Homo sapiens: one gene and its partner. The main gene of each other region encodes a partner of the protein of the gene in region 2 in a complex. Each region holds a gene or a part of one and is shown on either strand. Other genes may lie near its edges. The genes, in order: HDAC2 and PHF12. A codon is read from its position in the direction of its gene.

Evidence for each region.
Region 1: the proteins of PHF12 (region 2) and HDAC2 are in contact, whole or in part, in a cryo-EM structure (PDB 8BPB), measured with the Homo sapiens proteins. Residues at the interface, in NP_001028733.1 of Homo sapiens: Met21, Gln25, Met298 (codon at 9,202), Asp299 (codon at 9,199), Cys300 (codon at 9,196), Leu301 (codon at 9,193), Glu302 (codon at 9,190), Pro303 (codon at 9,187), Pro304 (codon at 9,184), Leu305 (codon at 9,181), Thr306 (codon at 9,178), Ala307 (codon at 9,175); in NP_001518.3 of Homo sapiens: Gln27 (codon at 9,175), Tyr202, Gly203, Leu212, Arg213, Pro228, Met229, Arg230, Thr356, Glu358, Tyr359, Lys362, Ile363, Arg366.

The regions. Positions count from the first base shown.
Region 1 is NC_000006.12:113,950,818-113,967,043, forward strand, and holds part of HDAC2 (histone deacetylase 2), read right to left. Parts: intron 11,578-16,226; exon of another isoform or gene 11,550-11,577; intron 9,202-11,549; coding exon 9,089-9,201; intron 7,950-9,088; coding exon 7,832-7,949; intron 5,877-7,831; coding exon 5,802-5,876; intron 5,335-5,801; coding exon 5,196-5,334; intron 2,602-5,195; coding exon 2,460-2,601; intron 1-2,459. UniProt on the Homo sapiens protein: Histone deacetylase that catalyzes the deacetylation of lysine residues on the N-terminal part of the core histones (H2A, H2B, H3 and H4).
Region 2 is NC_000017.11:28,910,019-28,926,244, forward strand, and holds part of PHF12 (PHD finger protein 12), read right to left. Parts: intron 14,285-16,226; coding exon 13,891-14,284; intron 11,791-13,890; coding exon 11,670-11,790; intron 9,258-11,669; coding exon 9,125-9,257; intron 7,432-9,124; coding exon 7,267-7,431; intron 4,020-7,266; coding exon 3,861-4,019; intron 3,260-3,860; coding exon 2,464-3,259; coding exon of another isoform or gene 2,438-2,463; exon of another isoform or gene 2,126-2,437; intron 1,220-2,125; coding exon 1,094-1,219; intron 352-1,093; coding exon 208-351; coding exon of another isoform or gene 17-207; exon of another isoform or gene 1-16.

The DNA of each region.
Region 1 (16,226 bases), on a different chromosome or scaffold from region 2:
CTTCAGTCCAATTTTACAAAAGCAAAATTTACCCTCAATATTAGAGTTATGAGACCCAACATCCAACGAGGAGAAAGCAAGCAAAATTACACACCTCCTCTCCCAATTTTTCTTGAAGTCTAAGTTTTTATTAAGATTAACTAAATACAAACCATACAAATATGGAAAAGCCAAAGTATTGTGAAAACTTTACAGTCCTACTGCACAGTTAAAACACAGATGAAATATATTTTGACCCTAAGATTTCAGAATACAGAAAAGTTGGTCAGCACTTCTCATCCTAACTGCTACTAACTAGCTGGCAACTCAGAGCTGCTGCCCTTGTTAGACATAGCTTTCTCTCTTCCAGGTTTCATTCTGCAACTGCTACTATGCCACCTTTCTTTCTTCCACTAGACTACTTGAATTAAAGCAAACAGTTTCAACAATGAGCTAAACTCAGAGTAGCCTTCTTTTCAGCATGAGAATGAATTAGCAGGCAGAAAAAGGAGTGTTTATTAAATTAACATCCAAAGATACACGTGAATTACACAGAAAGTCCAAAAACAGCTGTACATATAATGTAATGACTGATTTTAATTCTCTTACGAAGTTATGGGGACATGCTTAAAATATTCAAATGTTATCCTGAAAACATCAGCAACTGTAAAATCTTTTTTTTTTTTTTTTTGGCTGAGTCTTGCTGTGTCGCCCAGGCTGGAGTGCAGTGGAGCGATCTCGGCTCACAGCAAGCTCCGCCTCCCGGGTTCACGCCATTCTCCTGCCTCAGCCTCCCCAGTAGCTGGGACTACAAGCGCCCACCACCACGCCCGGCTAATTTTTTGTATTTTTAGTGGAGACGGGGTGTCACTGTGTTAGCCAGGATGGTCTCGATCTCCTGACCTCGTGATCCTCCCACCTCGGCCTCCCAAAGTGCTGGGATTACAGGCGTGAGACACCGCGCCCGGCCCAGCGATTGTAAAATCTTAAGTGAGAAAAAGAGATGTTGAAAGCCATTCTCAAATCCTTCTAAAACAGCATTCTCTAATATTTTCAAAAACTTCAAACTGTAAGAATTTTGAATAATAACTGAGATGAGACCATAGTGACATCCACCTGTCAGAAATTAAATGAAGCTTCCATTTTCCACTTCTGAGATAAACTAGCATCACACTGCAAAGATACTGTCTTATTCTTTAAGCTTAAAACAGAGAAGACTTTTGCTTGACTTCCACTAGGATGTAATGGTTGTTGACAAATGTATTCTATCAGTTTACAGCAGTGGTTCTCAAACTTTAAGGTGAAGAATCACCCAGAGTTTCTGGGCCCTAAGAATGTGTATTTCTAACAAGTTCCCAGGTGATGCTGATCTGCTTTCCTCAGTTTAGGCGCCACTGTTTGAGAAGCACTGGTCTGTAAGATAAGACCAGGTGGGGAAAGGGAGAAATTGAAGGAGTTTACTGGCAAGGAATTGAAATTACAAATCTGCAATTTTAAAAGCTAAATAATTTAAACTCAAACCAAACATTTGACCTCCCACCCATTTGTAAGTATGGAAAAGTTTCAGTAAGGTAACTCTTTTACTCAAAGAGTTTACTGAGAAAGTATCACACTGTGATCTAATAAAGAAAAGCCATACAGCTTAAGAATACTTTATGGCAACTCTTTAAACTTTGGTTGCTAAACTGTAATGATATACCACAGATGTGAAAAATAATCTTAATAAAATAGTTTAAAACTTTGTTCAATGCCATATAAATCTCCCATATAATCCAGGCTGAACTAAAAACAGCTGTTTAAATTATTGAATAAATTTCGACATTTGTATAGTTAGGTTCAAAAAAAGTGTAGTGAGGCAAAAAACCTTCAATGAACTTATAGAAATAGGATTTGACCAGTGGTTTTCAGAGTCATAAAAGACAAGAGCATCAAATGGAAAAAGATAACAAATAAAATAGAAATACACTTAATGTTAACAGGCAGGCAAGGTTACACTATGGTATCCTTTCTCTACCTAAATACATTACCAATTTTAGAAGCTTAAAGAAAAAAAAAGATTAAAATTAGATCTACTAAAAATCAAGACCAATCACAAAAGAGAGGAGCAGAAGAACCTAAAAAGACCTAGTCTATTTTATTCCACCATTCTTTACAATCAATAGCAACGTAGGCTACCATCAGGTAGTTTTGAAGATTCAAACTGAACATCAAGAGAAGGGCTTCATGCTTTGTGGATATTCAAAAACATTTATTCAACCAAAGAAAACAGCTGAGAAAAAAACTGTCCTTAAGTTTTCACTAAATTTTTGCTTATAGTCAGCAACAGTGAATTCTAGCAAATGTTACTGCATACGTAGTAATTCAATTCTGCATACAAGTTTCAAATTATTAACTCAGGAGAAAAATACTACTTCAAGTATAGGATTACTGATCTCCTAGGTTCATCTCACAATATTTTTTCAGACAGAATTTAGTCTTACCCTCAAGTCTCCTGTGCCAGGAAAGTATTCCCCATATTTATGGAATGATACCGTCATTACACGATCTGTTGTATAAAAAGCTTCTTCAACACCATCACCATGATGAATATCTATATCAATATATAAGACTCTCTGATGATACCTGAAAACAAATCCATAAGTTTTGGTTTTTCCTTTAAAGGTTCTAAGATGGGAAGAAGCACCACAAATTCAGGAAACCCATTTTTGAGCTCTTGCATTCCAGAATGTTTAATCACCTTTTACATTCAGCCTAAGAGGTTATTCAAATATCTGAGGTTTGAGCCTCAGGCCTTTAAATACCCACTTGTGGCCCAATGTAGGTTAAAAAATATATATTTACTCTTTGTGAAATCTGTTCTATTCTACATGCTTCAAAAACATAGCACATATTTCTAATATATTAAAAACTGAAGATTATACCATACTCAAGATTGTTAATTAAAACACCTCTGTAGTAAATCTTCAATAGTATAAAATAGGGATTGGCTAACTATGGCCCATGGCCCAAATTTGGCCAATTGCCTCTTTTTTCAGCTTTGAACTAAGAAGTTTTTATTATTTTTTAAATGGTTTAAAAACAAAACCAAAACAAGAGTATTTTCTGACGTGTGATAATTATACAAAATTCAAATTTCAGTGTCCATAAAAAAAGTTTTACTGAAAGACAGCCATGCTCAATTGTTTATTACCTATGGCTTCATTTGAACTGCAGAATCGATTAGCTGTGACAGAGGCTACATGTGGTACTCTCATGACTTCAAACTGGTGCTTGGAGCACCACAGATTAGTGACACAGTTGTAACTCAAACGCAGTTTAGGAGTCACATGAATCACCATGTCATGACATTTTGTTACCAGTGTATACTCATGTCAAAATAAGGGGAAAATGGACTTCTCATGTCATCCTTTTGAAGTATAGTGAAGTGAGATATTATTAGATGGCAAAGCATTGTATTTATTATATAATGGTGCCATAACTGTGCTAAATAAAACAATACAATGTAAATTGATATTTCCAGACTAAGCACTCATAAGAATATTCTCATAACACTATAAACAGCATACCATAGTACAGCAAAATTTCTTCACAAAATTAAAAAAACAGAAATGAGGCTGTGATCAAAATAAAGTTTCTGAGCGGCTCACGTGTTAGATAAGCAAGGAAAGCTGTGCACCAAGTCAATTAATTAAATCATGTTTGATTACACCACCCAAAAAAATGTGTCCAGACAAATTAAAGTTGTTTAAAACTATTAGCTGAGTGGGCAAGAACTTGCTCAAAGAGTTGAAGACACTGGAACCAACATCAACAGTCAATTAAAAAACAAGGCAAATGATTGCAAATGATTTTCCTTTGCTCCTGATGAGCAGGCAAGATGTTACACTGATACTGCTCAATCACTGTTTATTTGAGGAGTCAGTATCAATTTTAAGTTGACTGAAAAGTCAGCCTCTATGGATAGCATGCATGGAATAACTACAAGCAAAAAACACTAGCTCAGTATAATACAAAGTAGAATCTGCTAAGATGTGTCATAACTGATGGCAAAAAATAACTAACATTGCGAACATCCAAATTCCTAAGTACCTCTATAGATCTCTCTCTCAAACTGCAGCCACAGATAAGGAAAAATAACTCCTTCAACAACTCAGAGATAATTTTATATCCATCAGTAGAGAACAAAGCCTCATTCAGATATGGAAGTTAGGCAGTTAGACTAACTCAATAGGTAAAAAAATTTCCTTTAACACTGGCTTCAAATTTTTGTCTTCAGTTTAAAACATCCAAAATACTAGAATATAAACTTCCAAGGTCATTGTCATTTTTTACTAGTTGAAACTAACTAAAATGAAAATTGCCAAACTACTTTTAAAAAAGGGTATTTAATGGGAGTTTTGACATTTATATACACTTCTAATTCTTTTTTTTTTTTGAGATGGAGTCTCACTCTGTAGCCCAGGCTGGACTGCAGTGGTGCCATCTCGGCTCACTGCAACCTCCACCTCCCAGGTTCAAGCAATTCTCCCACCTCAGCCTCCTGAGTAGCTGGGATTACAGGCGCACGCCACCACGCCCGGCTAATTTTTCTATTTTTAGTAGGATGGGGTTTCACCATGTTGGTCAGGCTGGTCTCAAACCCCTGACCTCATAATCCACCCACCTCGTCCTCCCAAAGTGCTGGGATTACAGGCATGAGCCACGGCACTGGCCTTTTATACACTTCTAATTCTTTTTTTAAGGCAGGGTCTCACACTGTTGCCCAGGCTAGAGTGTAGTGGCAGGAACATGGCTTCCTGCAGACTCAACTTCCTGGGCTCAGGTACTCCCACCTCAGCCTCCTGGGTAGTTGGGACTACAGATGCATGCCACCACATCTGGCTAATTTTTTTTCTGTAGAGATGGGGTTTTGCCATGTTGCCTAGCCTGGTCTCAAACTCCTGGGCTCAAGAGATCCGCCCACCTCAGCCTCCCAAAGTGGAGGGATTACAGGCCTGGGCCATAGTGCCTGGCCACACTTCTAAGTCTTAATAATTGAAGAATTGGGCAAATTTCCTGCATTTCTTCATTGTTTTGTAATGAATTCATAGAAAATTCACCATTAACTATTTCAACCTATGGTTTACCTAATATTTTTTAAAGCCATAGACTTTATTTATTGTGTTTTAATGAAAACACTTTATCACTGAAAAGAGTATCAATATAAATTAACATACTTTAGTAATTCAAGGATGGCAAGCACAATATCATTAACGTAACAGAATCCTGATGCTTCTGATTTCTTAGCATGATGTAATCCTCCAGCCCAATTAACAGCCATATCAGTCTGTTGTCGGTTTAACTTCACAGCTCCAGCTAAGAAGTAGAAACAAGATAGACCTTTTAAACATTTATCATAAAAAAGTAGTAGAATGAGACAAAAACACTACAAGTGTATGCCATGCATAAGCAAGAGCTTAAAATCATGAAAGTTAACAGAAATCATCTATAACACAAATAGGAGTTACTCCTTAGAAAAATATTCTCCTAGAGCTGCAACCTGAGATTAAATAATGGTTTATGTGGAAAGTGGTAGTAACAATGATACCTAGAAGACAAAGGGAATGAATGAAGTCTCCAAGTGAAAATAAGTTTAAAAAGCGTTTAAGTCATAATCATAAAACATAGAGGTTTGAAAGTAAATTGTACTTTACTATAAACATACTGATTTCCTTTTGTTATCAAAATTCACAATCATTAAAACTTCTGTTTTACACAAATAACCCGAAAGATAACACACCAAGTTCAGATCAACTTTTAAATCTGATTGCATTAGCACTTACCAACTGAACCGCCAGTTGAGAGCTGACAAAACTCAAAGAGTCCATCAAACACTGGACAATCTTCTCCAACATTAACTGTGGAAGATGGATTTCATTAATTTCAACACATTCTGCAAATTAATGAAAGCCTTTTCTTACAAAAACTATTTCCCACAAATACTTTTTTGCTTGATGCAATCATCAAACATACACTTCACAGTATAATATAAAGTTTCCAACTTTAAAATATATTTATTGTTTTATCCAAGGTAATTAAAGTGTTATCTGTGAAAGATCATCAAATCTTATCAGGATTATCTGTGGAATATTTCTGTCTATTAACAAGAACTCAATAGTTGTCTAAGTACAACAATTCTTATTTAATTAAAACACAGGCTTAAATTTTCTAGGCCTTTCCCCTTAATATTACAATAAGTTAACATTCTAAAAGCAACTTCAATTGCTTTATAATTTACTTTCTTTGAAACTCCTTAAATACCTATAATATCTGTAACTTTGAAATGCATGTCAGTAAGTTACTAAACCAAAAAGATGTAACAGCTGGTTGCCTATTCCCATGGCTAATCTTGATCTTGAAAGTTGCTAAGAATTAACTAGGTTCATGGGAGCCAAAACATAGGATACTAAAGACAACAAGGAAAACATTTACAGATAAACGATCACACATTTAGTTCCTTAGCACTGAGAGAATGAAAGGATATGGCAGATGTATGTAACCCTTTCTTAGTCTTTCCCTATGCCCTTGAATTGTAACCTCTTCAAGAATAAGGGTCCTTGTTTTGTATATTAATATCTTTGTATACCCTTAAGTCACAAGCACTATAAGAAATGAATTTTAGTTTCTTACTGCACAGAGAGATCATAATCTTTTTTTTTTTTTGGAGACAGAGTCTCACTCTGTCGCCCAGGCTGGAGTGCAATGGCGTGAGCTTGGCTCACTGCAACCTCCACCTCTGGGGCTCAAGCAAGCAATTCTCCTGTCTCAGCCTACAGAGTAGTGGGATTACAGGCGCGCACCACCACACCCAGCTAATTTTCTGTACTTTTTTAATAGAGACAGGGTTTTGCCATGTTGGCCAGGCTGGTTTCGAACTCCTGACCTCAGGTAATCCACTCACCTCCGCCTCCCAAAGTGCTGGGATTACAGGCGTGAGCCACCACACCTGGCCAGGATCATAAGCTTAATAGAACTCATTATTATGTGGGTTTTAAATCAATCCTGTTATGTTGTTTGCCCAAGGGCTACTCATGCCTCTTTTGCATCTAAGTTGGAATCTTCATTGAAAAAAAAAAAATTAAATACTACATGTTCTAGTTACATTGTAGCATTATAACAAATCAAACAAGATATGGCAGAAATGTGTATGAGGTTGTAAATATGAGATGTCTAGCACCTACACTAATTTAGTATAATCATCACTGAAGTCAGTCAATACAAACACTAATGAGAATGAACTTTGGTATCAAGCTTTAAAAGATACTGTTCCAATAATTTTAGGTTGACTTTTGCATTCTACCTTCAAGCCAATTTGTTACTAATCTCTAAAAATAAAATACTTTTAACCTGTACAAGAGAACATTACGTAGAATCAAAAGCTTCACTAATATCTTAACAAAGAAAAAGAGATGTGTATTATAGTCCAGGTTAACTGAAGTACACAAAGACAAGACAAGAGATATGTACATGCCAAGCTAAGGCTAATCAAAGTGTAATCTTGTTTTTGTTTTTTTGAAGCGAGGGAGTAAGGGAGTGAGGTCTCCCTACCAATATGTATTAACCCAAAGTTATCAGGGGAGCAAACTAGGAGTAGAAGAATACCCAAACAGCAGTTTTGCAAACCAATAAGCTTCAGATAGGTTTACTTTTTTCTTAAGTAGCTTTAGTAGTGTTAAAATGACTTTTCAAATCAGTAAATAACTGTAACATATTAGACCAACAGGAAAAATATTCAGATTTAGATCATTCTAAGCTCCTAAAAATACTAATTTACATTTATCAAAGCAAAACTACTTTTTACTTAGAAACGTACATCTCTGCATCTGCTTACTATACTCAGACATGTTATCTGGTCTTATTGACCGTAGAAATTTGATATACTCATCACTGTGATATTTTGTCATTTCTTCGGCAGTGGCTTTATGGGGCCTCTGTGAAGAGAAATAAATGTCAGAACTGTGGAATTACAACCGGTTATATCAGTATTATCAAACAAATATACAAATTCCCCTATCGGTCCCCTCAAAAGAACCAAGTCTACCAGAACAAAATATATAAATTCCAAAACTAACCCAAACTTATATGTGTTTTAGAAAACAGTAATCAATCTCAAAACTAATTCAAACTCCTTTAAAAGCATTACACAGGCATATCAACTATGATTTAATCACTCCTTATTTTAGTGGAAACAGTTCGAGTAAAAAGTCAAATCCATATGTTCATAAACTCTACTTTCTCTCCTTTTCCATGATAAAACATCCAGTGATTTCATCAATGAAATCACTCACTACAAGAGTTTTCAATTCTAAATCTTTGTTCACGACCTCTCGTCCTTTTTTCTATCCTAATCTTCCTTGTTCCGAAGAGCTCAATTTCACGTATGACACAATTCTTCCACAAGACTTCCAGACTGAGTCTTATTCTAACTTCCCCTCTTCTCTAAATGTCTACATGTAACTGAAAATAATTCACATATTCACATATATTGCCTAGCATTAATTGTTTTAAATATTTCTTTTCTCCCCAAATAGCTAATTGTCGTGTCTGTATTTGTTTATACATACCCTCATCTTTATCTACAAAAACATTAAGGCAGCTGTTGCACTTGTGTTATCTGTACTATGCTTGGCCACACTAACACAGTATTCCATATGTATTATATGCCCTGCAAATATTTGTGGGATTAATTTTATGTGTTATTATTTTGTAACAGTCCCAGGTCAACTCTTTTCAGCAGCACAGGCAGATTAACAATTATTGTAAAAAAAAAAAAAAAAAAAAAAATACTTAATATGCTACACTGAGTTGTTGCTATACTGAGTTGTTCTCCAGAACCATGAAAGCCTAGGGTAGGGGGAACTTTTTTAAATGGTTAAAGGAAAAGGAAAAAGAGGGTATAGCTCTCATTCTTATTCATCTCCTAAGAATAAACGAAAAAAGAAGTTTGTTTTCTTCCAGATCTTTTCATCTGCTAAATGCCCTCAAAAGGGGAATAATAGACAAAGTTTCACAGTAGCTAAAAAAAAATAAAAAAGATCAGTGCTGAATATGTATTAAAAGGAATACTCACATATATTTCCATTTTTCTGTATAAGCCATAATTTAACAGCAAGTTATGGGTCATGCGGATTCTATGAGGCTTCATGGGATGACCCTGTCCATAATAATAATTTCCAATATCACCTAAAATAGAAAAGACACAAACTAAACAATACAGACAAGAGACCCTCCATGAACTATTTGAATTTATGTATGTCTATCATTAGAAGGCATTTACTACTTAACAAAATTTATTTAAAACCTTAGCAACTTAGATTTATTTTGCAACTTTCAAACTGTATCAGATGACTAAGACGCTACGCACACTTTTACCAGCTGAAGACTCCATTATTACACATTATATTTATTTGTAGATTAAGGAAAGCAAGCTTTTCTGATTTTTAGCTACCCCCAATTTTTAAAATTTCTGTTCCTTGAAATGATGCCTGCTTTCTGTATTCTCTGGCAAATTCACATGCTTTTAAGTTCTCTGAGTTTTATTGGTATGATTTAAAATTTTTTCAGCAAATACTGCTTTTTGGATGATTTGCTGGCATTTCAGAAATCTCATAATTGGCGTTTTGCATGTTAAAACATACCGTGTCCATATTAAAGCCCATCAGGGAAGTTTTGGTAACTGAAATTTAGGTCCTAAATGAGGTTTTGCTCCACTAAGACACAGCATTACATTTTTCAAGGTAATAAAAATACTGTCTCATTCTTCATGACTAAAAAGTTGTAATTCCTAGCCTGTCTTTTTAAACGGCATCTTATATCACAATGTCTTTAAACTTATGCATAAGATTTAAAAAAGAGAAAATAACAAAATCACAGATTTTCATCAACTAAATTTCAATAAAATTAATACTTTTAGGTAAAGCTCCAGTGTTTCCTATAATAGTAAATAACAAGAAGCCTCTCAAATATATAAAGTCAACCCTCTGTATCTGTGGATTCAATCAACTGCAGACTGAAAATATTTTTAAAAAATAGATGGTGGTGTCTGCTGGAAACACGTAGAGACTTTTTTTCCTTGTAATCTTCCCCTAAATCATACAGTGTAACAACTATTTACACTGCATTTGCATTGTATTAGGTATTATGAGTAATCTAGAGATGACTTAAAGTGTAAGGGGAGATATACATAGGTTATATGCAAATACTATACCAGTTTATTGAAGGAACTTAAACACCCATGAATTTTGCTATCTGTGGAAGTCTTGGAACTAATTCCCCACAGGGTCAGGACAGTCAAGCTATTTTAATGGTTTGAAGTCTATCATTTCAACACGGGTTTATATATTACAATAAAAGCTAGAATAAAAAATGCAATTTATCCACTAAATCTTTCAAAGTCCTCCCTAAATACACCTTTTGTTTGTTTAATGGAAACAACCCCAAAAACTTTTTTGTCCTCTCTCCTACATATTTGATAACAGTACGGGATAAACAATCAGCTTTTACAAAATCCATGCTTCTAATAACATAAATACTTGATTTTGTTGGTATCACACCTCTAATTTTAGTTAACTTCATTTTCAGCACAGCTCTCTTCTGAAAACAATTCATATACAAAGTCTTTTAAAGGGAAAGCCACCTTTTTAATGCAGGTGCCAACAAGGCTAAGAAACAATATAGAGTTTAGCAAAGCAGGGCCATGGCCCTTTGCAACATTCCTCTGCAATTATAATTAAGAGGCTATGATTGCAGAAAATAAACTACCTATTAAGAAAGAATCTACCATAAAGCTCTACCTTACATGGTGACAATACAAGGGATATATAGTTCCTTGAAAGCAGCCTGGTCTCATCATTTCTTAGATATGGAAAACCCACTAGTGTTATTACAAAGCATCATGTAATTAAATTAATACAAGGGAAGGCATTTCTTAGTTATCACTACTAAAGAAATCATTAAAGTAAAAATAATGAAAGTCTAGTCTTCACTAGAAATGCAGATTCTATGAGGTTTCGTGGGATGACCCTGCCCATAATAATTTCCAATATCACCTAAAACAGAAAAGACACAAACTAAACAATAACTTCCATCTATCTGCCTCTGTGTAACAATTACCCAAATGAAATGTCTCTAACATCTACCACATCATAACATCAAATACTCTAGTTATTTGATGCACACTGAAAATCCAGTGAAAAGCCCCAGGCCCCAATAATTGGAGACTACAGTAGCAATTTCTGAGCAAGTGTGTTTGAAAAAAAAAAAAAGCAGTAATTAACACTTGTTGAGTGCTTACTAGAAGGCACTATTAAGTACTTCACATATCTTTTAATCTTGTCAATAACCTTATGATGTGGGTATTATTACATTATTCCTATTGTATAATAGTAAAGAAGGATGAGAAACAGACAAGTCAGGTATTATTGCCTAAGTCACATAGCCAGCAAGTGGAGGAGCTAGATTCAAACTCTGGCAGGGCAGCTCACAGCTAATGTTCTTAAGTAATAACAACAGGGAATGTCAAGGACACTTACAGATTCACTAGAAATGGCAGGGTGAAGGCTGAAAAAAAGACATAATATGAAATATAAATATTTTAAATAAAGGCTTAGGGTCTTGGTTAATTTAAAGAAAATGAACACAAGAAACTGTACCTAATATATCAGAGTAATTTACTTTTTACTAATAGGGTCCTCAAATCGTATACGAATACGCATAGCTTTCAACAAGTTTCTCTGTTGAAATTTAGGGACCCCAGTCCCACAAAGAATACACAAAGAACCTAAATGATACATGTATACAGGGCAGCCAAGCTACAGATAATTTTTTGGTTTACCAAGAATTCTTCTAGCTGGGCGTGGAGGCTCACACCCGTAATCCCAGTACTTCGGGAGGCCGAGGCGGGCAGATCACGAAGTCAAGAGATCGAGACCTTCCTGACAAACATTGTGAAACCCCGTCTCTACTAAAAATACAAAAAAAAAAGCCAGGTGTGGTGGCATGCGCCTGTAGTCCCAGCTGCTCAGGAGGCTGAGGCAGGAGAATCACTTGAACCCAGGAGGCGGAGGTTGCAGTGAGCCGAGATCGTGCCACTGCACTCCAGCCTGGGTGACAGAGCGAGACTCTGTATCAAAAAAAAAAAAAAAAAAGAATTCTTCTAAAATATAAAGGCGTTATAAAATAACCATCTCCAACTTTTTCCCACTAATTCTGTATCTCACAATTCTCTAGATGGCTACTTTGTAGGCATCCACTTTGTTTTCTTTTTGAGATGGAGTTTCGCTCTTGTCACCCAGGCTGGAGTGCGGTGATGTGATCTTGGCTCACTGCAACCTCCACCTCTGGGGTTCAAGCAATTCTCCTGCCTCAGCCTCCCAAGTAGCTGGGATTACAAGCGCCCACCACCATACCCGGCTAATTTTTGTATTTTTAGTAGTGACGGGGTATCTCCATATTTGCCAGGCTTGTCTCAAACTCCTGACCTCAGATGATCTGCCCGCCTCAGCCTCCCAAAGTGCTGGGATTACAGATGTGAGCCACTGTGCCCAGCCCACTTTTTCATAAAGTATAAAAAGGCTAAGAAGTTTTAAGACCCTACAATTTTTATTCATCATTTAAATGGTCAGTAATGTATTAATAATTTGGGCATTTTAAATGTTACTGATTTGCATCAAAATACAGATTATCCCTAATCCAAAAATTTGATATCCAAAATGTTCCAAAATCTGAACTGTTTTGAGCACCAACTTAATAGTCAAGGAAATGCTAACTGGAGCATGTCAAATTTTTGATTTTCGAATTAGGGATGCTAACTGGTAAATAATTACAAATATTGCAAAACCTCCCCAAATCTGAAATACTTCTGGTCCCAAGAATTCAGATAAAGGATATTCAACCTGTACATAAAAATACTTTACCAATGAAATAAACATTCAGAAAAATCAGCTCAAGGTGGTTCCTTGAACACAACAAACTTTAATTGTCAATGCAAAGAAATTACTGTAAAGAATTATTTATCTGCAAAATTTTACAAATTGCTCACTCTTCAAGAAACTAACAGAATGGAAGTGTCTACTAAGGTCCACAATCTCTTATCCATATTCCTTCAAATTAGATATGTTTCAAATTTTACACTTTTTCAGATTTTGTAGAGATAATATGGTACACCTGCCATATATTATGTAATAGCCTAGAGTTTGGGTGGCATGATATAATCAAACATTAATATTTCTACAGCAAAAAAGTGTGAATATTCACGGTATTCACAGAGGAATAAAGATCATAAATAGCCTCACATTGATTCAGGTTAAGATTTTGATTCCAAATGAGTTACCAAAATTTTTTTCAATTTTCAGGTCATTTTGGATTTCAGAACTGTGAAATGTACCTTTAGCCACAAAGATAAGTTGACTGCAAAAAGAGACTCAGGAAAAAAAAAACAAGAGAAAAGAAAAAAGTTTATTATTTTCATCTTCCAGACTACTTAGCCCACTATCCATTTTTTATACATATTAACACATCTTTAATACATATTTCAAGGAGGTTATTCCTCCTTGAGACATTCGGAGCCTTGGCTTCCATAATACCATTTTCTTGGGATTTTACTTGTACCCCAAGGCCACTCCTCCACCAACCTTTAAACATCAAGGGTTTTCAGTTCAGCCATTCATTTAATAAATCAAGAGCCTACCATGTGCCAAGCAGGTACTGTTCTAAGGGTTTGGGTTCATCAGTGAACAATAGTTCTGCCCTAAATTCTCTTCTCTCGGGAGTTAAGTCCTGGGACCAGTCGTCTGTCTATGCTGTATCTTTTTCAGTCTCAATACTTCACCTGATATAAGCTGAGAAATCCCAAATTTCTATGTCTAGACTCTCCTCTCTGGATTATAAACTCACAGAGGTTAACTCTCTTCTCAGTCTTTTCACTTGAATTCAATAAGGATCTCAAATATAAGATGTTCAAAACAGAGCTCTTTATTTGTATTCCCAATCTTAGTGAGTAGTACCACATACCACCTAACTGCTCAATCCAGAAACTTAGGAGTCATCCTTCATTCTCTAACACCATTCCTCAGCTCCAACTCCATTTCTAATCCATCAAAAAGTTCTATTGGTTTGAGGCCCAAATCTCTCTTAAATATGTCTATTTCTATCTAAAATGCAACCATTACATTTTATATGGACCAATATGTGTTCAATTCTTGCTTCCAGCCTATATTCCACAACTCCTTACCAATTATTTTGAGAGAATGCATTCTATTTGAGAAACTTTCAATGGCTTTCCACCTCTGGGTAAAGTCAAATTTCTTACTACACAGTTTTGTGCAGTCCCACTTTTTACTGCCTAACATGGGACTCCACATTTTCCTTGTCTTCCTTCCCATTAAGTGCACCAAGTTCTATTAATAACTATCTGGCTTTGCTATTTGTAATATCTTATGTAGTAAACTCTTTTTAAGGCTGGCCCATTCTCTTCCTTCAGGTCTTCCCTTTTCTGATTACACTATCAAAGGTCCCCTCTCTTTTACTTTTTTTGTTTTTTTTTTTGAGACAGAGTCTTGCTCTTGCCACCCACCCAGGCTGGAGTGCAATGGCATGATCTCGGCTCACTGCAACCTCTCTGCCTCCCGGGTTCAAGCGATTCTCCTGCCTCAGCCTCCCAAGTAGCTGGGATTACAGGCACCCGTCACCATGCCCAGCTAACTTTTTTTTGTATTTTTAGTAGAGAGAGGGTTTCGCCATGTTGGCCAGGCTGGTCTCAAACTCCTGACCTTGTGATCTGCCCGCCTCGGCTTCCCAAAGTGCTGGGATTATAGGCGTGAGCCACTGCACCCGGCCCCCTCTCTTACTTTATACCTGCAGTCTTTTATTTCCTTCTTAGGACTTGAGCAATCTTTTGTCTATTTGGCACACAGTAGGAACTTTAAGCCTATTTGATATGTCTGAACCCAAAGCTGGCTTAATGAACAAGTAACAATAAGCAGACTGCTACTGAAATACAGAGGAATAAGGCTTAATAACCAGTACAAAAAAATCCTTAGACTTGATTTGAATTCTTCCAAGTTTGAATTTATTAACATTCCCTAAGAGATGCCTTCTCCAATCCCAAGTGTTTTCCTTTAAGGACTTGTCAACAGAAGCATTTAAAGTTTTTGTTAAGGAGTTTTGTTTGTTTGGTAGCAGAGGAAACACTTTGAAAAGGAAAAAAGAAAAATAAAGATTCCGGATGTTGAACTCTCCTTGAACATTAAAACTACAGTCAGTGTGGAAAAGGAAAAGTGGTAGACTGCACCAAACAAATGTGAATCTGTTTTCATCTAAACAATACCAAAAATGCCAAAATGCCACCCATCCTACCTAAATGTAGTTCAGAGTAGTTTCAAGAATTAGAGGGAACGTTATATGAAAGCGTTCTATCTATAAGAATAAGGAATTGGCCAGGCACAGTGGCTCACGCCTGTAATCCCAGCACTTAGGGAGGCTGAGGTGGGTGGATCACCCCAGGTCAGGAGTTCGAGACCAGCCTGGCCAACATGGTAAAACCCCCATCTCTACTAAAAAATACAAAAATTAGCCAGGGGTGGTGGCACGTGCCTGTAATCTCAACTACTTGGGAGGCTGAGGCAAGAGAATCACTTGAACCCGGGAGGGTAGTGGAGGTTGCAGTGAGCTGGGATCACGCCACTGCACTCCAGCCTGGGCAATAAGAGCAAAATTCCATCTCAAAAAAAAAAAAAAAGTATAAGGAATTAATAATTTATTCATCACTAATTAAAAAAAAAAGCTACGTTTTTAAATGTAGTTGGCGAAGATACAAACACAAGCAAAACAGACAGACTGTCCTAATGAAGCTTATGTTATAGTGAGGAGAGAGACAAAAGTTATATGGTACAACCAAAAGGAAGAAAAATAAGGCAATAACAGGGACTTAGGTAATAGGAGAAAGCATCTCTGATGAGGTAAAATTTGAAAGAAAAGAGAGGCAAAAGATTTCTGGGGAAAGAGAAGTATAGGAAAATTTCAGTCTTATTTAGTCATGTTTTATTGTGCAATTAGTATTACTGGTATTTATGAACTGCTGCTATAATTAATTTAGCACTTATTTGCCTCCAAAGAAATTATTACCTATTTCACGGATAATAAAGATTTATACCACAGCTAAGAACCCATGTAGTTGTATTAAAGGTTATTCAGCAAAAGACTTTGGTACT
Region 2 (16,226 bases):
ACTTCCCCAAGTCTGATCAGAAAGCTGTGGTTGCCATCTTGTTCCTGCTCTCTTCAGAAAAAAACCATGGTGCTTTATTAAGCCCATGAAAAGCACACAAGGAGGTTTGAGATACTGGAAGCTCAGATTCTCCATGGAGGCAAGGTGACCATTCGCACACGTAGAGGGGAGATCTGATGATGTGGTGACAGGTGTGTACATGCGCACCTTCTATGTGGTGCCCTCCAGAAGCCAGCTGATGTGTCCCGACACTGCCCGGTGAAGGTTGGACCCGGGAGGGGAAAAGCTGATGTATTCTCTGCAAGGCCAGAAACTTGATCAGCTTCTCGTCCAGCATATTTATCTCGATTTCTATTAGCCAAAGAGAAAGATTAAAAAGCAGCTGAGATGGGAAGTGGAATGTGGAAGCAAATCAGGGTCACAGAGCAAATAGTTTGGCATTTCTAAAATCCAGCCAAGTGATTTTTACTCAAACAGCATTGAGTGCAGAGCGTACAAGGATCTGCAGCTGGGCATCTCACTTGCCATTTGCAGTGAGATGGGCCCCAATGCAGCCTGTGCAGCTGCCTCCTGTAGTTGGGTGGACTGATTTTAATTAAAGTGCCCCTAGAAAGGCAGAGTGGAATAAACCACTTGCCTGTCTGTGGGGGAGGGCCTGGATGTCTGATATTGAGACTTGAACTTTCTACCCACCTTGTGTTCACAGAGATCAAGATCTGTCCCTGTTCTCCTGGACTTTGGGGGTTTCCCACAGATGAGGTCCCTCCTTTGGGAGTGAGGATCTTAGTTTTATTCTGCAAATCCAGGTGATCTGCCTAAAGTGATTTTGTTCTCGTCTCACTGGTTCAGCTTGGCTCTGTCCTCCCTTCATCTTTGATTATGTGTATATGCACATGTAGAAGGCAGAGCTACAGAAGGAGCTTTCTTTTTCACCCCGCCCCCCCATCCAAAAGGATACTCCTCATTCCCATCTCCCCCTAGGCCTCTGGGATCAGGTGTCCCTTCCCTCCCTTTCTGAAATGAGCTGAATGCTGTATAGGAATAGCACCTTCAACATAGCAAACGGTGGAACAGCAGCAGCTCATTCACTCACCTCCATTGACATCCATAAATGCTCGAAGTGAGTTGGTGAGGTCCACCATGGCAGTAGAGTTGGCTGGGAAAGAGGGTACGGTTAAAGCGCTTCCTATGGATAACGTGCCGGGGCTGACCTTGCCATCTGGGGACGGAGCAGGAAGACTGTTACTTACGTCGCCTGAGGGAAACCCACCGTCCAATCCCCCACTGCTGAGACAGGTCTGGATTTCGGACCCAAGGTGATGTTCCCTTCTTGATTCTCAACCCATAGGCTCTGGAACTCCTAGAGCTAAAAACGTGTGGTGAGGAAGGGCAGATGGAACGACAAAGCACCCAGGCACGCAGGAGTCTCCAGAGCACTGAGAACCACTGAAATCCACTGCTCTGGGGAAAGTGGTGGGGCAGCTTCATTCTTTGGGCCATGACCACCTCCCTGCTGCCTCTACTTTAAAATAAGTAGTGCCTGCCCTTATAATTCTTGCCTACTGAAATATGACTCACGGCGTGGAGAATCTACCCACGCTGGTTTTAAGCGATAAACAGAGATAGGAAAACAGCCTGGGAGCGGGGCCATCCTGGGACCAGGGGCTCCCATGCAGAGAAATCACAATCATCTGGTTACCGAGACTCCCAGCTGACTAGGAGGCCGGCTTCAGTTCAGACGGGAGAGACCACAGAGGGTTCCGGCAGCATCTGAAACCTGGTTCAGATGCTGGGGTCAGCAACTTCAAGGTCCTGAGTGCTCTCTGGGGACAGCTGAGAGAGCAGGTCCACAGTAGGCCAAGTACAGACCTGAAGGACCGCCCTTTGGCATGTGGCCTGAGGGCACGCTTCTGGGCTAGAACAATCCCTGTGGGCATCCCACTCTACAGCTCCTCTGAAAGACAGTGCTGCTGTCTAGCCCTGCTTCCTGACATGGAAGTTCATCAGATTAACTCTTTCTGAGAATATGCATCAGGCATGAATCCATTCTTTTGTGTGGATCTGACAATACTGAGGCCATCACGCAGAACCTCAGGCTGATCATAGTAATTCCAGAGAGCACCCTGCCTTCTTTTAAGGTGACAGAACAAAACAGGCAGAGGCCTAGGCCTGGAAGGTATGGGATGGAGTCAGGAGACCTGGGCTGTGGTTCCAATCCTGCCACTGACTCAGTAGGTCATTTTAAGGAAATCACTGAAGCTTTCAGAGCCTAAGCAGTCCCATTTATAAACGGGACAAGTTAACATGTGCTTCCTCTTCTATTACGGAAATGAGAGTAAGACAAACAATACAAAGGCCAAAGTCCTCTGAAGTATTCACAGGGATATAAGTGCTTTTAGAATCTTATTTGCCAGAAAGAGCATAAAATTATTCCAAATCAACCCAAGGCTGAGCAGCACTCACCTGACGATGGCGCTGGTGAGCTGAATCGTTGGTTGGCTGTTGTGGCCAAGATACCATCTCCTGCTGCTTGCGGGGGAGTGAGCACCCGGGTGGCGTTTGGGGGTGAGCCCAGTGGCCTTGAATCTGTCAACGGAGGTCCTATCTGTGATTGGACAGTCTTTCTTTGCAAAGTGCTGGTGTTCTCGATGCTGGCACAAGAGCTGGGAATGGAAGGGGGCAGGCTTGGGACAGGAACCAAACTCCTCTGGGGGCAAGAGCTGGGGCCAGTGGCATTCTCTGTCTTCACAATGATGCCGACGGTGTGGTTCTGAAGGCCCCCAGCCGCTGGTGGCGTGAGGGGCCGGGGCCAGCCTTGCCGGTGTGAGAGGCCTGGTAGTGGGGTGTTAGCGCCTGGAAGTCGCCGGGGGTCCGTGGAATCAGTAGGGCTGCTGTAGAGGTGTGGGCCATTAGCTTTCACCTCTGTGTTCACTGGCCCATTGGCAGTCCCACAAGGGGTTTTCTTGGATTTTTCCGCACAAGAACTGCAGCCGATGTCCTCTAGGGCTGGGGACTGGTGGGGTGGAGAGCAGCTCAGGGAATTCTGGGTGCTAATCCCTGAGGGGCAGGACAAGGGGTAGTGGGAAGGTGTAGGTGTCTTGTCAGCTGTTTGCAGGGAGGTGGTGACTGAGCTGTCAGTCACAATAACAGGCTTAATATCAGCCTTCTCTGTCTGTTCAGAGTCCCAATGCGAAGGCATCTGCTTAGCAGATAAATGTTTCAATATGCTGCACTGGAGCGCAACAACACTACAGAGCCACTGCAATGGAAGGAGAGGAGAGGGGGGTGAGAAGCCTGAGAGGCGCCGGTCCTTCCTGCCACAGTGGCCAGGGCTGCAGCAGAGCTGACAAGCAGTTTCCGAGGTCCCATCATGAATGCTCACAAAGGGTGTGCTTGACTCCTGATAGAATTCCATTTCCATTCCCAAGCAAGACTTATAGGTACCCTCAGCAGGCCAACACTCCCTCTGGCCAACAGAGCTTGGGATCTGCATTTTGACTCTGCCTTTAAGGCTTACTTGTGACCAATATTCAGCAATTACCCCGAGCACCTGTGGTATGTCCAGCACTATCACCTAACCTCTCTATGGGTCTACTCATCTCTTTCTACAGTATAGATTTGCCCATCTCACAGTGCACTGGGGTAACGATGGAGAGAAGCAGACCAGTTGCCTTTGTAGATCTCTTACTTGCCTTTGGGATTTGAGCCAGAAGTTCCCCCTGGAATACTCAACTCTTGAGGGGTTAGGATGAGGGTGGGTGGGGACTGGAATGAGAATGACACTGAGGCTACTTCTGATAACAGCTGTGGTGACACAGAAGGAAGGTTGGATTTGGAATCCCCGCCCCACCTTCACTCACCTCTTGCTGCTCTGCTTGGGTGGCTAAGTGCTCAGAGTTCAAAAGGTGCATCTGTGATTCCTCAGGGATCCCATTGCAGATCAGCTCCCCGTCCCGAATGGCCGCGGGTGCAATGAGAGGGGGTGGAAACTGGTACTGAGATTTTATAGCATCAGGAACCTGTTCAGGATAGATAGAAGGAGGAAGGAGAGGGAGATAGTTCCAACATGTCTAGTTGATTCTGCCCTGGTATGCTGTTCTGTCTGTGGTGCTGGTGCTCAAGGGACCATCCACTCTGGGGTCTGCTGAGGAAAAGGAGGCTCAGAAATGGAAATAGCAGGTGGGGCCTCCACTTTCCTTCATCAAGGTCTAAGGCCTGCAGAACACAGAAACCACTGCGTTCTGTCTTCTGCTTTAGCCTGAAAGGTGTAAGACTGGCACTGGACAGGGCTTCAGAGTGGTACTCTGGGTTCTTATTGCTCAGTGTCAAGTTTGGGAGTGGGTGAGCAGTCACTGAGAGATAAAAATGCTTAGGCCAGGCGCGGTGGCTCACGCCTGTAATCCCAGCACTTTGGGAGGCCGAGGCGGGAGGATCATGAGGTCAGGAGATCGAGACCATCCTGGCTAACATGGTGAAACCCCATCTCTACTACAAATATGAAAAATTAGCCGGGCGTGGTGGTGGGCGCCTATAGTCCCAGCTACTTGGGAGGCTGAGGCAGGAGAATGGCATGAACCCGGGAGGCGGAGCTTGCAGTGAACCGAGATAGGGCCACTGCAGTCCGGCCTGGGTGAAAGAGCGAGACTCCGTCTCAAAAAAAAAAAAAAAAAAAAAAAAAAAAAAATGCTTGACATGAGGCCTGGCTCATGATAAGCACTCCATCAATGTCAGTTTCCTTCATCCATTCATTCATGACTCATGAAACAACTAAAGACGTCTTTGTGCAACAAAAACAGAAGCCACACTCTGAATCACACCATGTAAGAATGAAAGAGCCACACAAGCAAAGAGTCATTCATACATTCAACCAACATTTATTGAGCACCTCCTGTGTCTGGGCACTGTTCCAAGTTCTAGAGATCCAGAGATGAATAAAAGTTAAGACTTGCCCTCAAGGAGCTCACAGTCTAGTGGGGAGATAAACACAGAAATATTACAACACAAGGTAATGGGTTCTAGAAGAGAAGCATGTCTAAGGTGCTATTAAAAACATAGTGCTTATTTTAGTTTGGGGGACAGGAATTTGGGATTGGGGATGATTTTATAGGAAGTCAGTATTTGGGTTGACACTTGGAAGTTGAGAAGGATCTTCCAGGCAGATAAAGGAAAAATAAGGGAGGGGGAGAAGCATGTAAGGCATAGAGATGTGATAGCACTTTGTGGATTTGGAAAACATCCAGAGAACCAACAGATTTGGTGACAAAATCCTTATGGTAGACAAGGGAGAACTGAAAATGGTTCCCAGAATTTTAGTTTGAGGGACTGAGTAGTGATCATTGTTATTTACTGCAATAGGAGATACAGGAGGAAGAGCAGATGTGGAGAGGCAGAAGACTTCTGGTCTTATGGAGGAGGTTCATCCTGAGATATCTGTGGGATGGGCAGGCAGATATGAGTCTGGATATAAGGAGAAAGGCATGGAATATGGAGTTGAGAGTCATCACCATGGGCTGGTGATGGCCTTAGCTGGTGCCATGGGCTTTCTGAGATCACCCAGGAATGAGAGGAGGAGGAATAAACAGTGGACTAGTTTATTCCACTACCCCTGGGGTAAGAACAGGATACCCCTGGGGAAGAGTGAAGGGCTAAGTGGAAGAGAAATTCGCAACGAAGATACAAAGTTCTCAGCAGATTTTTCCTGAATTGCTAGAATCAAGTGTAAAGGCTAATGTTCCAGGAGAGAGCTGGGGTTCTTCACCAATGTTCTATGGTGCTACGGTCCTCATTTCACTCTCAAACTGTCCAAGTACAAAATGCTTTGCAGGTAACTCATGCCCTTTGAGTTTCCTCACTAGAGAAACACTTAAAAGGTGGGAGGGGCACCATACAACAAGGGGATTTTTATCAAGGTCTCCTGGCCCGTTCACTTCAGCAGCTATGCTCTCTGACAAATCTACACAGTGAATTACACAGTCTGGATTACTTTTAGATCTGTTTCACTGAGATGAGGCATACTACCTTTAATATCATCCATTTCCGAAATATTTGAATCTAGTTTTGGAAAACCTGTGTCTCCACTGATGTATAAATATTTGCCCAGTTAAGTTTGTTATACAATTTTCAACAGTTAGCATCTTGCTAGTGCTGATACCCACTGAAGGTGATGGCAGTGGTGTGACTGACCTTTTTTTTTGAGACAGAGTTTCACTCTTGTTGTCCAGGCCGGAGTGCAATGGCGCGATCTCGGCTCACTGCAACCTCCACCTCCCAGGTTCTAATGATTCTCCTGCCTCAGCCTCCCGAGTAGCTGGTATTACAGGTGCCTGCCACAATGCCAGGCTAATGTTTTATATTTTTAGCAGAGACGGGGTTTCACCACGTTGGTCAGGCTGGTCTCAAACTCCTGACCTCAGGTAATCCACCTGCCTTGGTCTCCCAAAGTGCTAGGATTACAGGCGTGAGCCACCGCGCCTGGCCAGTGTGATTGATTTTAAAATGTGGCTGCCACCAAGTGGCCATACTTGAGAAGTGCTGGTTTCTGTTAGCACATAAGACTGTGGGATCATTTCAAAAGAGAAAAACAAGTTTATATATGGGTATATAGTGTTGGACCCTCTAGGTTAACTGAATGAGGGGATTGAATGGTTTAAAAACATCCTCACTACCACCAAATGCTTTTCAAGGAGGGAAATTTTTCTGTCAATCTCTGTAAACACACTTTGGCCAATGTCAAGAGCATATAAATATTAGGCATTATTACAGCTATGCCACAATTTGGAGCATTGGTGATATATTAACAGCAGCCTGGAAAAATAGATTCAAGTTTCCTTTAGATATTTTCCACTTAAGTTCCTGAGCTGGGATTAGCTCTTCACCTTCCACATGGCTCTTTCTGCTTAATCATCCCCACCTTTACTTTGCCTCTTGGACAGAGGCCATCTAACAGGAACAGATAGAATGAGCGTTAGGTGAGGGTGGCAGTAACAACAGAGCACATTTGGGTTTGGTGGGATGGGCTGAAGAGTGCTTATCCTTTGGAAAACTAGAGACTGGTAGACTTCGAAGGCTAACTTGAGGTTCGGCCCTCATAATCCTGACCATCATCCCCAAGTATTAAAATGAAGGTCACACTCATTACTCACGAGACACCACAAACCTATTTCTGGGGCTTCAGTTTCCCTGCCTGTAAAATTGGGACAGTGATCCTCTGTCTAACCCATGATGGCAGGCAGACTACCATCTTGCCTGCACCTGATTGTGACTCACCTTCAAGCTTCTTCTTTTGACCGACTGGAGCACACGCCGGTTAGGGGGGTGCTTCTTGTGGATTCGGTTCAGGAAGTCCACTTTGACGACATGCTGCGAAACGGTGTCCTGGAAACGATCAAACACCTGGCACCGATTGCTCAGTGTCATATTCTTCTGGTTCAGCTAGGGACAAAGCAGACACAACCTTGTGGTGAGCCTCAAAAGGCACCTCCTATCCCAGTTAACCCCATTCCCTGTGTTTAAAAACTAGAAGCCCTCAGCCACATAGGTTCCCTCAATTAGGGACCAGGATGTCGGCACTCTTTGTCAGAGAGCAAGGGAACATGGATGAGACTTCCTACTCAGCCCTGCCCAGTCCAGTGGAAGAGAGCCAATATGTTCCTGTTCCCTAGAGAGCCTTAAGGAAGGCAGGAGAAATTAGCCAAGACGTGCCCTTCCAAATTCGGCCTCTGACAGTCTTCTGTTCCAGCTCAGAGAAGCCTCTGTCAGGGCCCTCTAATAGCAGCACAGGTTTCAGAGAAGACGTATGCTTCGACCCTTAAGAGACCCACACTCCCTTCCCAGGAAGGGCCTCTCTCTAATAGGAAAAGCAGGACTGTGTCCTACATAGGAGCTTGGCTGACAACTGGGTCAGAACCAGAAATCCGTGTGCTCTGCTCTACTCCTACTCCGTGGTACCAAGGAGCATAAGTTAACCCATCTTGATATCAGTCTTCCTCTACTGGAAGGGAAAACCTTGGATTGCTCTTAGAAGCCAAAAGGAGAAAAGAAAGAAGAGTTTCTGCAATAATATACGAAGGCATACAGAAATTATGCCACTTTTCCTATTCTACATCTGGGCTCCTACATTTTAATTCAAAAGAAAGGACCTGCTGTGGCAGCTGCCTAATTCATAAATCAGGAAAAACCTTTAAGTGGCTAACAAAAATTTAACCCACTAAGAATTTCTCAACTGCTAGAAAGCTGCTCTTTAAGTTTCACATTTGGGTAAACTGCTTATGGTCATTTTTTTTCTGGTTCATCAGGAAGCAAAACAAGACTAGGAGAGAAACAAGGAAGCAAAACAAGACTAGATTTTCCTCCTAGAAAAATCTTTGACTGGCATGAGTCAAAAGAACACAAAGTAACTCTTCTCTTCCATGTGTGCAAGTCTTTAACCGAGGTTCCTCTCAGTGCAAGGTCAGCAGCACACTGCCATGAAGGCCAACGGTCATTCCATGGTTATCATCATTTGACAGACAATGTCTTAAGCAGTAGCCTTTTTAATTTGGAAGGCTGCTCTTATGAGGGAGCTCCTCCTCCTCAAATCCTCTCCCATTCAATCTTGTGAGTGACTGTTCTAACTGCCTATAAAGAGATGTCCTAAACTTCTTTTGGAGATAGCAAGTGACAGCTCTTTTCTAGCCTCAGTCTGGAAAATAAACCCAAGACTCTTGGAAGAGAAAGCAATAGGACCTTCACACTATTATTCATTCAACAGCTTATTTACTAAACTTCATTTGGTGCCTGGGACACATGTACCCCAGACAGCCAACGATTTATTTCCTTAAGGTTGGATCTAATATACTCCCCTTTTAGGGCTATAACATCAACTGCTTAATTCCCTATAAGTCACTTACAAACAACCAAGCACTAGTGAGTTAAGTCTGTATGGGCAGCTGAAACAAAACATTGTGAGAAAAAGCATAGCTGAAATATGTCAAAATGATCAGAATTGAGTAGGGTGGCCTGCAGAAACCAGTACCTATGACAATGTGGTGAACTTGGCACCAAGCTGACCTTAATATGCTTTCTGCTAATCAGTCCACGCTCCAGCTATGCCCATTGAGGACTGAATGGACACTGCTGTGCTTACCACCACATGTTCGATGTGATTCGGACACATCCATCTGCCCAGGGGCATGGCAGTGAGCGGCGGCTCGAGGCAATCCATGTGAAACAGGAGAGGGCAATAGTCACACTGGATGAGAGGAGCCACACGGCAACTCCTGCAAAAAAGAGATGTTGGCCATTTCTGTGGCAAGAAAAGGAAAATTCAAACTAACTTTGACCTGTGGAACAGCCTCCCCTCCTTGATCCTAACATTCTCCCCTCCTTGATCCTAACATTCTCCCCTATCTTCCTCCAGTGATTCAGTTACATTTATGATTAGAAAGATGGATGGGGCTGGTGCGATGGCTCACGCCTATAATCCCTGCACTTTGGGAGGCCGAGGTGGGCGGATTGCCTGAGGTCAGGAGACTGAGACTGAGACTAGCCTGACCAACATGGTGAAACCCTGTCTCTACTAAAAATACAAAAAATTAGCTGGGCGTGGTGGTGGGCACCTGTAATCCCAGCTACTCGGGAGGCTGAGGCAGGAGAATTGCTTGAACCTAGGAGGCCGGAGGTTGCAGTGAGCCAAGATGGCGCCACTGCACTCCAGCCTGGGTGACAGAGAGAGACTCTATCTCAAACAAAACAAAACAGAACACAACAAAACAAAAAAACAACATGGATGGATTTGGGGGCTCCCATTAGGTTCTTCATTATTCTCTCTTCTAAGAAGAACATGTCTTGCGGGAAAGTGAATGTTTATTTGGAGTACAGCTAAAGTGGCAGAGTAGGGATGATCAATGCTCAGTACTCACTAGGGGAAAACAGTGAACTCTGCTCTGATCTTCCTACTTCTTAAAAGAGAGAGCCTACTTCATTAAAAAAATCACTAGCAACCTTTCTGGAGTCTTAACTATAGCAAGAAAATATTTCTCTTCTGCATGAAGCACTCAGCAGAACTGACAATTAGAGGTGTGCTGGAAAGATGATTTTGTAATGTATTCATGTAAGCAGGGTTCAAAAGAGGACTAAGCAAATGACAACTACGATTTGTAACTACAATACTCCTGGGGTCCCCAAGATGCACTGGAGCCACAGTTTGTCCTGGCTCAGAGTTCTGCCACTCTACTATCTAGTTCCCTTTCCCTATACCTTTTGCTGTGAAACATTTCTTTTTGATAGTTACTTTCTCTTGCTACCCTGCTCTGACCATAATACAGTCCTTCTAACACACCCAAGCCAACAAGTCCAGCTTCAGTAACTGAAGCAGCTGGTTTCTGTCAAAGAGATCCTATTTGAAGGAAACCAGTGTCCCAGAGACTATAACTGGGGCAGCCCTAGGGGCTTTTGGAAGTCATCCAGTCCAATACACACTATCATAGATCCTTATACTACTTTTAAACTTATCTTTAGTGATTCAAGTTAATGTTTAGTTTAAGTCCAACTCCTCTTGTTCTAGTGTGTAAACACAGTTTTTTTGAGATGGAGTCTTGGTCTGTCACCAGGCTAGAGTGCAGTGGCGTGACCTCAGCTCACTGCAACCTCCGCCTCCTGGGTTCAAGTGATTCTCCTGCCTCAGCCTCCTGAGTAGCTGGGACTACAGGTGCGTGCCACCACACCCAGCTAATTTTTGTATTTTTAGTAGAGATGGAGTTTCACCATGTTGACCAGGATGGTCTTGATCTCCTGACCTCATGATCTGCCCGCCTCGGCCTCCCAAAGTGTTGGGATTACAGGCGTGAGCCACCACACCGGGCCATTGTTTTTATTTATTTTTATTTATTTTTTTGAGACGGAGTCTTGCTCTGTCGCCCAGGCTGGAGTGCAGTGGCGCGATCTTGGCTCACTGCAAGCTCCGCCTCCCAGGTTCATGCCATTCTCCTGCCTCAGCCTTCAGAGTAGCTGGGATTACAGATGCCTGCCACCATGCCCGGCTAATTTTTTTTTGTTTGTTTGAATTTTTAGTTGAGACAGGGTTTCACCATGTTAGCCAGGATGGTCTCAATATCCTGACCTTGTGATCAGCCTGCCTCGGCCTCCCAAAGTGTTGGGATTACAGGCATGTGCCACAGCGCCCGGCCCCTTGTTTTTGTTTTAAAATACAGGGTCTCGCTCTGTTGACCAGGCTGGAGTGCAGTGGCGTGATCACAGTTTAGCCTCCAGGGCTAATCTGCTTAAGCCTCTGGAGTAGCTGGGACTACAGGTGCGTATCACCATACCTGGTTCATTAAAAAAATTTTTTTTTGTAGAGACAAGGTTTCACTGTGTTGCCCAGGTTGGTCTCAAGCTCCCAGGTTCAAACAATCTGACCGCCTCGGCCTCCCAGATTGCTGCGATTACAGGCATAAGCCACCGTGCTCGGCCTCAACACAGTTCACAGTACTCCTGTACTGTGATTCTTCAGAAAATTTGTTAACACATACACATTCAAGGCTCTCGTCAGTCCATTAGTTAGTCTCCATGTACTCATACTATCAGAATATGGGCTGTTCACATTTAACATACATGGTCTGGAAGAGGTGATGAGAGAAAAAGTATCATCTGCTAAATAATGAGAAAGAGCCCCTTAGTATGAAAGAAAATACCTGTTACACGTGAAGCAGACTTTGACGGGTAAGGGAACGAGACCATTGTGATCTAATTCATGCTGTGTCTTCTTAACATTTTTCCCTGTGGTTTCCTCCTTTCTTCTCCTCTTGCTAGAACCTAGAAAAGAAAATGATGGTGCTGAGCTATCCCTGGCTTCAGAGTTCCTAGCCTGCAATATGGAAACAACATTAAGTGACAAAAACAGATCTTAAGCATGTGTCATGGCCTAAGCATGAATTGCTCTCTGAGGCCCCTGGGGTTGATTTTAAGTTAGAAAAAAGAAAGATTAGGGAGGAAAAAAAAAGAGACTAATACGTAAGTCAGAACCAGAAGTCACCTGTTCTATGGCAGAAACACATCTAACTGTTTTGCAAACATAAAATGGTCAGAAATGCTAGGTTAGATACAGGCAACCTAAGAAATGTAAATGTCCAAGCCACATAGTCAACAAGGACTATTCTGTGGAGTTGGCCTGCAGTCTTGAACTACTGGGCTCAAGCAACTTTCCTGCCTCAGCCTCCATATGAGCCAGGACTACAGGTGTGGGCCATCAAACTCAGCTAACTTTTTTATTTTTATTTTTTGAGAGATGGGGTCTCATTATGTTGCCAAGACTGGTCTCCAATTCCTGGCCTTAAGCAATCCTCCTGCCTTGATCTCTCAAAGTACTAGGATTACAGGTGTGAGCCACCACACCTGGCCCACATTTTCATAAAAATCAGAGAAGCTTTGATTCTATATGCATCCTTCTTAAGCCTACCAATTTCACTTTCTTTGGGAATAAAAACTAAGACCTAGAAGCTTTACAGTATCAAGAAGCCAGGACTTAAAAAAAAAGAATGGAGGACAATTTGGCAATATCTATCAAAACTATATAGTTTTGACCCAGCAATTTTATTGTCCTATAGACATAGTCACACATCTATACATGTATATAATGATGTATTTACAAAGTTATTCTCTGAAGCACTACCAGTAGTAATGAAAGATTTGGAACCTAAATGTCCATTAATAGAAAATGTCCATTAATAGAAAATGGCACTGGTTAAATAAATTATGACGTATCTGTACAAAGAACTACTATGCAACCATTAAAAAAAGCAAGAAGGCCAGGCGCAGTGGCTCATGCCTATAATCCCAGCACTTTGGGATCCTCTGAGGCGGGAGGATCGTGTGAGCACAATTTGAGACCAGCCCTGGCAACATAGTGAGACCCTGTCTTTATAAAAAATATAAAAATTAGCTGAGTGTGGTGGTGTACAACTGTGGTCCCAGCTACTTGGGAGGCTGAGGTGGGAGGATTGCTTGAGCTGTGGTCACACCACTGCACCACAGTGCAGTGCAGCCTCTGTCTCAAAAAAAAAAAAATTCTATATTAATATGAAAAGACTTCTAGAACATATTTTAAAGTGAGAAAAAAAAAGCAACGTGTAGAATGGTTTAACTAGCATGTTACTTAAGGGAAAATTAATCAGCATATATCTGTATTTGCTTTTACATGCACAAAGAAATTTGAGAAGAATAAACAAGAATCAACCAGTGGTTACCTGTGAAGAGCAGGAAGGTGGAAAGTAGGCAAATGGCAGACGGGTGGGAGGGAAATTTTCATTGTAGCCCTTAATATTTTTTGATTTTTGAACCATGTGAATGTATAATACTTTTTTTTTTTAAAAGATAATTCTGGGGCCGGGCGTGGTGACTCGCACCTGTAATCCCAGCACTTCGGGAGGCCGAGGTGGGCAGATCACCTGAGGTCAGGAGTTCAAGACCAGCCTGAACAACATGGTAAAATCCTGTCTCTACTGAAAATACAAAAATTAGCCAGGCATGGTAGCATGCGCCTGTAGTCCCAGCTACTTGGAAGGCTGAAGCACGAGAATCGCCTGAACCTGGGAGGCGGAGGTTGCAATGAGCCGAGATCGTGCCACTGCACTCTAGCCTGAGTGACAAAGTGAGACTCACAAAAAAAAAAAAAAAAAAAAAAGGAAAAAGATAATTCTGGGGGAGGGGAAGGAAAGAAGTTCAGAAACTGAGAAAATGGAAAACTGAGTAAGCTCTGTAATGGCTAAGACCTTCAAAGATCTCTCCAAGCAGAACTAGGAACAGGAACCCAAGACAGTAGCTACATGAACAGTGACTCCACAGGCAGCACTGCTCTTGTGCTGGTCCTTTGGGGAAACTGGGGTTGGGAAGGGATATGATGATGGTTTGGCTGACCTGGTAGTGCAGTGGTACAAGTCAGTTCATTGGGCAACTGAAATTGGGTGGGGTTCCGCTCCATGGCGGCAGCAATCAGCAGCTCAAAGGGCCGCCTCAGCTGGGGCTGCACATAGTCTGGCTCCGCTGCTACTGGTTCCTCATCCACGTCAATGATGTCTTCGTCGACATCATTCTGCTCAGAGGTGGGAGTCTCTGTGCTGGCGCTGGATGTGGGTGTGCCAGGCCTGCTGGCTCTCCTTTCCAGGATCCGGGCATGGGCAATGGCCTTTAGTTCAGTTTTGCTGGCCGATCTGTCCAACAAGTCAGTGTCACTGCTGGGGGATGTAGTCCGTTTGCCAGATTTGTCCACCAGTCCATTGACATGACCCAGCTCCTTTTTCTGCTCTCGTTTCTGTGCAAATGAACAGGTGGGCCCATCATGAAAAGTACCATGAAACAAAGAGATGGGTGCTACAAAGTCCTGGTAGACCACTAATCAAAACTGTAAAAGGCCTTCACATATCACAGACTCATCTACCTGGTCACTTGGAACACTGGTCTGTTAAAGTTGACACAACTCTAACTGAACTAAAGCTGACAAAACTGTTGCATCAGAGAATCACCAAAAAGCATGGTAAGTTAGGAATAACTATACAAAATATATATCATTAACATTAACTCATTGTATGACATACAACATCTATAAAGTATAGGGTAAAGGGCTAAAAAGGTAACACAGTGAGAATAAATTTAGTGAGACCAATAGTAAAAATCAATGGGGCAGGCACGGTGGCTCACGTCTGTAATCCCAGCACTTTGGGAGGCCGAGGCAGGCAGATCACCTGAGGTCAGGAGTTCAAGACCAGCCTGGCCAACATGGTGAAACCCCATCTCTACTAAAAACACAAAAATTAGCTGGGTGTGGTGGCATGTGCCTGTAATCCCAGCTACTCAGGAGGCTGAGGCAGGAGAATCGCTTGAACCTGGGAGGCAAAGATTGCAGTGAACTGAGATTGCGCCATTGCACTCCAGCTTGGGCGACAGAGCAAGATTCCATCTCAAAAAAAAAAAAAAAAAAAATCAGTGAGATCACTATAGAGCCTTCTGACCTCCTGAATGGTTTTAAAAATAAAAACTTTGCTCAAAATAAGTGACACTTCTTAGAAAGTGGGGAAATGGAAAAAGATTAAGTGTACTCAGTAGGACTGGATATCTGATAGTACATTTTCCTCCAGGACTCCAAATAGAGTGGTCAAATGAAGGTTTAACACTGATCTCCAGGTAGGAGACCTGTGATCTTGTCCTATTTCTGCCACGGATCCCCTCTGACCTTGTGGTGACTCAGGCTGGTGGGCAGGAATTTCTTCATCTGTAAAATGAGACAGAAAAATCTTTCTCCTCCTCCTCTCAGGGATATGGTGGAGGGAGATAAAAAGGGTCATATATACGAAAGGGATAATTTGGAGTTGGAGTAGGACCTAGTCTTCCACTACGAATCATGATAGGGCCTGAATGTCAGGAGCTGATGAAGGCCAGAGGATGTATTATTTCAATCCACTTCAGTGTAAATACAAGAGGCCAAAGGGGAGTAGTGCTGGTGATGGTGGAAAAGGCAGACTTGGCACTGGTAGGCAGAGGTCCATGTGAAAGGTAAGAGAGGCATCTCAGGAGAAGTGCCATGTTAGAAAAGGGCATACTGTAATCCCCAACAAGTAGCTCTCCTTCTAGAAAACTGATGAAGAGGTAACAGAGGTTTGGAATGAGAGAATTTGGTTCAAACATTGGTTCTGTCAATACCTTTGAGTCCTTGGGAAAGTTAATCTACATTTTTGAGCCTCCGTTTCTTCCTTTCTAAAATGGAAACCTACGGCCAGCATTCGGTATCCATCTATGGCTGGATGGATAGATAATGGGATAACGTAATTAAAACACCTGGCACACGATGGGCACTAACATAATATTTCCTTTTCTCCACCGTCTTTACCCCTTTTCCTTCAGCTCCCCTAAACCTTTTCAGGTCCAGCTTTTTTGAGTGGCAAGTTTGAGAGGGCTCCTGGCTGGCAGGTGCCTCTAACAGGCCCTGCTCTAACCTAATTAGGGATGCACAGGAAAGGATCTTGGAAGGTGGAGAGGCTGGAAGACAGCCTGGTTTATGGAGAAATTTAACTACAGCTGTGGTTAGGTGGTTGACCTGGCTTTGGCTTGCTTTTAAATATGAACCCTTATGCACGTATTTGAAAAATAATGTCTGCTTGTTTACTTTCTTTCTTAAAGGCTGAAACTGTTACACACATAAACCACAATCTTAATCATCTCATCCTGTTTCTGCAACCAAGGAAGTCATCATTCATTGT